2 linked regions of the Homo sapiens genome follow. The protein of the gene in region 1 interacts with the protein of each later gene in a pairwise test. Each region holds a gene or a part of one and is shown in the gene's direction. Other genes may lie near its edges.

Region 1 (3,781 bases):
CCTGCTGAGTTAACTCTTACAGCAACTCTTTCTGGCATTCCTGTTATGTGCTAGCCACAGTTGTAGGCACTGGGATATAGCAGTGAACCAAATGTATAGAAATTCTTGCTCTCGAGGAAAAGCAATGCTGGTGGAAAAGCAATTTGATTTTTCTGAGCAGTAATCTTTTTCAGAGTGAGCTTGTAAATCTCACCTAAAATTCAGTCCCCAAGGGAGGTGTGGTTGCTCCTCCAAATGTTTTTAATTTTTTTTTTTTTTGAGACGGAGTCTCGTTCTGTTGCCCAGGCTGGAGTGCAGTGGCACGATCTTAGCTCATTGCAAGCTCCACCTCCCAGGTTCATGCCATTCTTCTGCCTCAGCCTCCCAAGTAACTGGGACTACAGGTGCCTGCCACCACGCCTGGCTAGTTTTTTGTATTTTTAGTAGAGTCAGGGTTTCACCATGTTAGCCAGGATGGTCTTGATCTCCCGACCTCGTGATCTGCCCGCCTTGGCTTCCCCAAATGCTGGGACTACAGGCGTGAGCCACTGCGCCTGGCCCCAAATGTTTTTAATTTATCTATTCACAAGAATATCATAATGGCTTTGACAAATTCATTGCTATTCCATTTCTGTAACATCCCCCACGTCCTGCAAACCTTTGTCTATCAACAAAGAAGTGAGGATTGAACGTATTAGTTTCTAAGCCTGCTATAACAAATTACCACAAACATGGTGACTTAAACCAACAGAAATGTATTCTCTTACAGTTCCGTAGTCCAGAAGTCCAAAATCAAAGTGTTGGCAGGGCCATGCTCCCTCTGAGGGCTTTGGGGGAGAATCCTTTGCCTCTGACCAGAAGGTAGCTCTAACAGTTTCCTTGGCTTGTGGTTGCATAACTATAATCTCTGCCTCCGTCTTAATGTGGTTTTCATCCCTGTGTCCCTGAGTCTCATGTTTCCCTCTGCCTTCCTCTTTGCTTTAGGCCCACCCTGAATCTGGGATGATCTCCTTTTGAGATGTTTAATTATAAAGATCCCTCTCCAAGTAAGATCACATTCACAGGTTCTGAAGAGGAGTAGGACATGGCCATATGTTTTTAGAGGCCACAATTCTACCCACTACGAAGATGGTTTGGCTTGCATTGTTCTTTATGAATGTATAAATGTATGTTAGTGTCCAGTGTTTGCCACATCTTTATGGTTTTAAAAACCATCTGTATAATCTTTTCTAAAATTCAGGTAGCATTTCATATCAAGCTTGCTGGCATCTCTTCCTCAAAGATCGTTAGCGCATTCTGCAGGCTGAGCGTGGTGGCTCACGCCAGTAATCCGAGCACTTTGGGATGCCAAGGCCAGAGGATTGCTTGACTTCAGGAAGTCGAGACTGCAGTGGGCTGTGATTGTGTCACTGCACTCCAGCGGGGGTGACAGAGCGAGACCCTTTCTCCAAAAAAAAAAAAAAAGATTATTAGTGAATCTGTAACCATGTCTACCTTTATTTTAGGATTCTAGATAAGCTTCTTAACTCTTATGTTCCAAATATAAGGCTCTGGGAACTGTTACGGGAGGGTCAAGAAATGGATTCCCTTGGTGTTTGGGGCAACCAGAGCCCCGAAGCTGGCCATCTCCCAGTACCCCAGTGTACCCTACAAATACTGGTATTTTCTGTATGTGTCATGATATGAAAAATGTTGGTGAGCACTGCTTTGCAATATAATTCAGCATTTGAAGACTTCAACTAACATAAAGCATTTAGGCACCCTTTCTTGTTTCTTCAAATGTCTCAGACTTCAGTTTCCTCTTATATTCCCTCATGTTCTTTTTTCTGGAATGGAAAGTTTTCTTTTTAATAGAAAAGACAGAAGAGTTGGGATTGAATGAGTCTGCATTTCCCTGTTGCTTAATAATAGAACATCTGTGGCAGTCTGTCAAATTGTCTTTTGCTTCCCGTTCCAAGCGAGCCCTGATGCATTCTAGTTGGCTCTTCTCAGGAGCCTCAGCTCACTCTACGTTTTGAACTTCCTGACCTTAATGAAAATTTTCATTTGTCATTGCTGCTCTCTGCCCTTTCCTCTTGTTTTTTTTTTAAATGTGTCCTTTGAAAATGTGAGTGTGTCTGGTTAAGGAAACAGAATGTGGACACATTAAAAACACATACACCTGTAAAATGACCTCAGAATGTTGACATTGCGGTGTGGAAATAAATACACATGAATATAATGCTAGTTCTTATGGCATATCCTGGGTATGCCAAGTTAAAGGGTAGTCAGCCAACTGGTGCTAATTGGAATACACCAGCTGTGCTGAGTTTGTGTAACATGGGAAAGTATAGTTGTGCCCTTGTTCTCTAAAAACTTCTAAGCCATTGTAGGACAGTTAAACAGACATGGGTGGCAAAAATATATGATGGGTAATGGTAATCTCCATGACCAATCATAGCATCAGCTGGTCATTTTTAGAGAATGCTTGAGAAAGGAAGAAGGGGATGGTGAGTTGGACAACAATCCAGCTGGCCCTGCCTAGACCCAGGAAATTACCCTATTTTTCCAGAACTTGTGCTATAAATTCTATGATTAAGCTGCATCGTGCATTGAAGCAGGTTTTCATGGGGTCATCTCGGAACTTGGCCACCATTTATATATATTTTTTTATGTTTAGAGACAGGGTGTCACTCTGTCACTCCTGCTGGAATGCAGTGGTGTGATCATAGCTCACTGCAGCCTCCAATTCCTGGGCCCAAGCCATCCTCCTGCCTCAGCCTCCCAAGTAGCTAAGACTATAGGGCACACCACTATGCCTGGCTCATTTTAAAATTTTTTGTAGAGTTGGGGTCTTGTTTTGTTGCCCAGGCTTGGTCTTGAACCACTGATCTCAAGAAGTCCTTTTGCCGCAGCCTCCCAAAGCACTGGGATTACAGGTGTGAGAGCCACTGTGCCCAGCCATCATGTCCCTTTTTTTTTTTTTGAGATGGAGTCTTGCCCTGTCACCAGGCTGGAGTGCAGTGGCCTGATCTCAGCTCACTACAACCTCCGCCTCCCGGGTTCAAGCGATTCTCCTCCCTCAGCCTCCTGAGTAGCTGGGACTACAGGTGCACACAACCATGCCCAGCTAACTTTTGTATTTTTAGTAGAGATGGGGTTTCACCATGTTGGCCAGGATGGTCTCGATCTTGACCTCGTGATCTGCCCTCCTTGGCCTCCCAAAGTGCTAGGATTACAGACGTGAGCCACTGCGTCCGGCCCATGTCCCATTTTTAATGTAGTGACTATACAAGTAATTTGGCTGGAAATAGTATGGGATCACATATTCATTCCTCCATTTATTCCACCAATCACTGGGTGCCTGCTGTCTGCAGACCTTGCAGATGGAGCAGTGAAGAAGATAATAGTGCTTTGCCTTTATGGAGTATACTGTACAATCTACTTTGGAGTTGAGCAATATAATTAGAAAGAATTATAAACAAATAGGGTCCTGGAGTACCATGCAGAACCTGGTCTAGATGTAGTGGTCAGGGAGGTCTCTCAGGAGGTAACATTCAGGCTAATGCTGTATTAAATGGTGCTGGTGAATGGGGCAGGGAAGAGTGAGCCAAGGAGGGAGAAAACAGCCTTGCTAACATTGTGGGGTATGAAGAGGCCTGGTGTGTTCAAGGAGCTGGAAGAAGTCTAGCAAGACTAGGACAGAAGGGAGAATGGTTGGTGCTAATACAAGAGAGACAGGCTGAGACCAGCCCTTGCCAGGTCTCATAGGCAGTAGTGAGCCTTGGGACTTTAGTCTTAAGTACATGAGAAGCCACCAAAG
Region 2 (3,711 bases), on another chromosome or scaffold:
TGCCACGCCCTCAGCACAAGTGAAACCTATCGTCAGCGCGTCACCACCCTCGCGGGCCGTGGCGGGTTCCAGAAGCTCACAGGGAAAGACGGAAGTGAAAGTCAAGCCAGCTAGCCCTGTGGCTCAACCTAAAGAAGAGGCAAAAACAGAAACAGAGGTAGGACACTGCTCTTATTAACAAATGTTGGTCTCAAACAAGAAGCCTTAGAATCAACTTGGATGTCTTAGTTCACTCTCACTAAGTTATTCACAAAATCTTCCCACTTTTTTCACCTGGGTCTTTTTTTTTTTTTAACCTAACAGCCATGTTTATTAAAAAAACACTTGTATTCTCACTAGTTTACAAGATTAGAGTTTATATATTTGTACAGTTACTGTTCTGTTATACAGAATTGATATATACCGGGGCTTAACAAACTTTTTCTGTAAAGGGCCCAAATATTTTATAAATATTTTAGACTTTATAGTCCAGACTGTCATAATTACCCTTCTCCGCCATTTTAGCACAAAGGCAATTTAAATATAGTTCTTCCATGAATAGATGTGACTGCGTTCCGGTAAAACTTTACTTTATAAAACCAGGTGGTGGACCGGACTCAGCCTGTGGGGTGTCATGTGCTGACACCTGGTGAATCCCGTAGGTTTCTGTGACTTTTCTTGATTTACACTATTAACCTCTAGAAGATAGGACCAATTTTCTTGTTGGTCTTTTAAGATTTCTGGGGGTTTGCTTTGTGTTGAAGTATGATGATATATGTTGTTGCTGTTGTTCCTAATTTTTCAGTAGGCACAGAATGTAGTGAGTGTGAACAATCAATGCAGCTCAGTCTTTACCTGGCTTTAGTTGAGGCCGTCTTCTCCCACAAGCCTCAGTCTCCTCATCTGGTAAAGGAGGGTCGGCCAGGGCGGCCTGTGCAGAAGGCTGGCACCTGGAGGGCGTGTCAGCCTTAGTGAAATGCATGTGGAGTGCTCTGAAGCAGTGCAGCGAGTTAACTTGTCCAATAGCAATGTCATGAAGAATGGCTTTAGAGAAGAATTTAGGCAAGTCATGCTTTCTTAGTTTCATAAAAACCAGTCAACACTGGTTTTACCTTTTAATCAGTTCATTTTTTTCAGTTAGATTTTCTTCTGATATATTATTGTAGCAGTTGTAATGTATTGTTTACCAAATTGGAAGTACAAAGTTGAAATATTAACATACAATGAACTCTTATTAGAACACGAGTGACTTTTGGTTTTAAAATCAATATGTGAAAAAATAATGTAGATTTACAAACTGGATCGGAATAGTTTAGAAAGAAGTCTTTGGTAAAAGTTTTATCATACTTCTAGTGTATATAGCCAGCTCCTAACTCAGTATGTGTAACTGATTTGGTTCAGAAAAATGAAGTCACACATTCATAATAACAGGGCTACCTAATAGGGGAAGTTGCCTTTCAGGCATCCTGCTGGCACATCTGGCGATCACTTCCTTCCATGATAGTTGATTTAGGCGAACTTCTAAAGGATTCTTCCATGGAGTTATTTCAAAAAGATGCCTTGAGTGAAATGGAACCTGTAGGTCACCGTAGTATAAATGGAATGTCTTGATTTATTTTCTTTTAATTTTCTCTCTCTATATAAAGGGGACCAGGATTATATATATTTTTTTACTTTTTAGAAGAAAGATCTTCTATTTGTTTTGCTTAGCTAAATGTGACTTATTTTCGTATGTTCACCCCTCTTGATGATGATATAATAAAGGGTGAATCTGCTTATTTGGAGGTCTTTTCAAGTATTTCAGCTGCTGTTCTGAACATGCTTTAACTCTTCCTTGACTGCATGGGAAATTCCGATGACTAGTAATTATTCCTGTGTTTTGAGGCAGTGGCCCCTTGGGTCCTGTGAATATGTCCCCAGCCGTCTGCTTCCCCGATGCCCATGTCCCTTGTGCCCACTATCCCCCTGGACGCCATGTCTTGCTCTGTATGCCTACCCTTGTAAACAGCCTCTCACCCACCTTCATTTTTGCAGTTTGAAATCTGCCCTAGATGTGATATTAGAGAACAGAGGTGGTCGGAATTGCTTCCAGGACGACAAGTAATCCCTGAGTGAGGGCTGGCACCGGGCACTCAAGCTCCAGGGCACCAGCCGACTCCTCAGCTGTGCTTTTGTCTTAAGTTCCTAATTCTTAAGGTTTATTTAGGGAAAGTAAGATGGTGAAATAGCTGAATTCTAGATAGATTAAATCCTGTTACATTATTTTACACGGAGTCTGTGGATATGGATGATTTTTAAAGAATATTATTACAATTCTTTAAAAATGCTTAACTTTTTATACATTTTCCCTATTGGATGCTTTTTATTGAAAGTTACTGGAGTTTTTCAAAGATTTTTTTGTATCGACTTGAAGAATGGTTTGGAACTTGGAATATTAAAGGCGTTCCTTATATACCATTAATATTCCAATACTGCAATCGGCAACATTTTGATTCTGAGGAGAGTGCATGAGTTCAAGGTCAGAGAGATTGACTTGTGCTGTTCATTATAACCAATTATTCTGTGACAAATGAGTTTGAGATCAGGCTGAAAATTCTGCACGAAAAATCAATAGTTCTAATCAGAGCCTTTCAGGTCATTTACACCCCACCTTTTGTTGGTTTGTCAGAGAAGAGCCAGATAAAACCTGTGTGACAGCAGGCCTCCCTACTGCTGCCATTCCTGTTTGAAACATATTTTGATATCTTAAATGAATAGTTTAATTGGTTTCAAACTTGTAAATGAGTGGAAATTTACATTATTTCATTTTTAATATTCTGATAAGATTTTCCAAATTAGCTTTAGCTGTGTGGTTTTTTTCCCCCTCCCCAGAGGAAGGAGTTATACTTAAAGTCTTCAAACAGATTTTGAGTGACTTCTTTCAGATACTGAATTAAAGGACTTGTGGTAAATGTGTTCTTGTAATTTGTTGAAATAGACTATGGGCACCTTGCCTGTATAGCAAAGTAAACCGTGTATGTTTTCCATTTTAGTTTCCTGATGAAGATGAGGAAACAAGGTTATATCGCTTAAAGATAGAAGAACAGAAACGCCTAAGAGAAGAAATCCTGAAACAGAAGGAGTTACGGCGGCAGCAGCAGGCTGGTGCCAGGAAGAAGGAGCTGCTGGAGAGACTCGCGCAGCAACAGCAGCAGCTGTACGCTCCCCCACCCCCAGCAGAGCAGGAAGAGCAGGCACTGTCACCATCACCCACCAACGGTAACCCACTGTTGCCCTTTCCAGGTGCACAGGTCAGACAAAATGTGAAGAACAGACTTCTTGTTAAAAACCAGGATGTCAGTATTTCAAACGTTCAGCCCAAAACATCCAATTTTGTACCATCCAGTGCCAACATGCAGTATCAAGGACAACAGATGAAAGCACTGAAACATTTGAGACAGACCAGAACAGTTCCTCAAAGTCAGACTCAGCCGCTGCATAAAGTGCTCCCGATCAAACCTGCAGATGTGGAGGAGCCAGCTGTCCCCCAGACTCCTCGAGTGGCGTCCATCCAGGGCCGGCCCCAGGACACAAAGCCTGGCGTGAAAAGGACTGTCACGCACAGGACAAACAGTGGTGGTGGAGACGGGCCCCACATCAGCTCCAAGGTCAGGGTGATTAAGCTGTCAGGTGGGGTAAGTTGACAAGTTTTATGAGAGCCTCTTTGAGTCTGTGTATCACATAGAATGTCCT

What was found.
Region 2: the proteins of FSAF1 (region 1) and RBM33 interact in a two-hybrid assay, tested with the Homo sapiens proteins (one large-scale study listed by BioGRID).

The regions. Positions count from the first base shown.
Region 1 is NC_000001.11:231,234,659-231,238,439, reverse strand, and holds part of FSAF1 (40S small subunit processome assembly factor 1), read left to right. Parts: intron 1-3,781.
Region 2 is NC_000007.14:155,741,950-155,745,660, forward strand, and holds part of RBM33 (RNA-binding protein 33), read left to right. Parts: coding exon 1-157; intron 158-3,011; coding exon 3,012-3,653; intron 3,654-3,711. UniProt on the Homo sapiens protein: RNA reader protein, which recognizes and binds specific RNAs, thereby regulating RNA metabolic processes, such as mRNA export, mRNA stability and/or translation.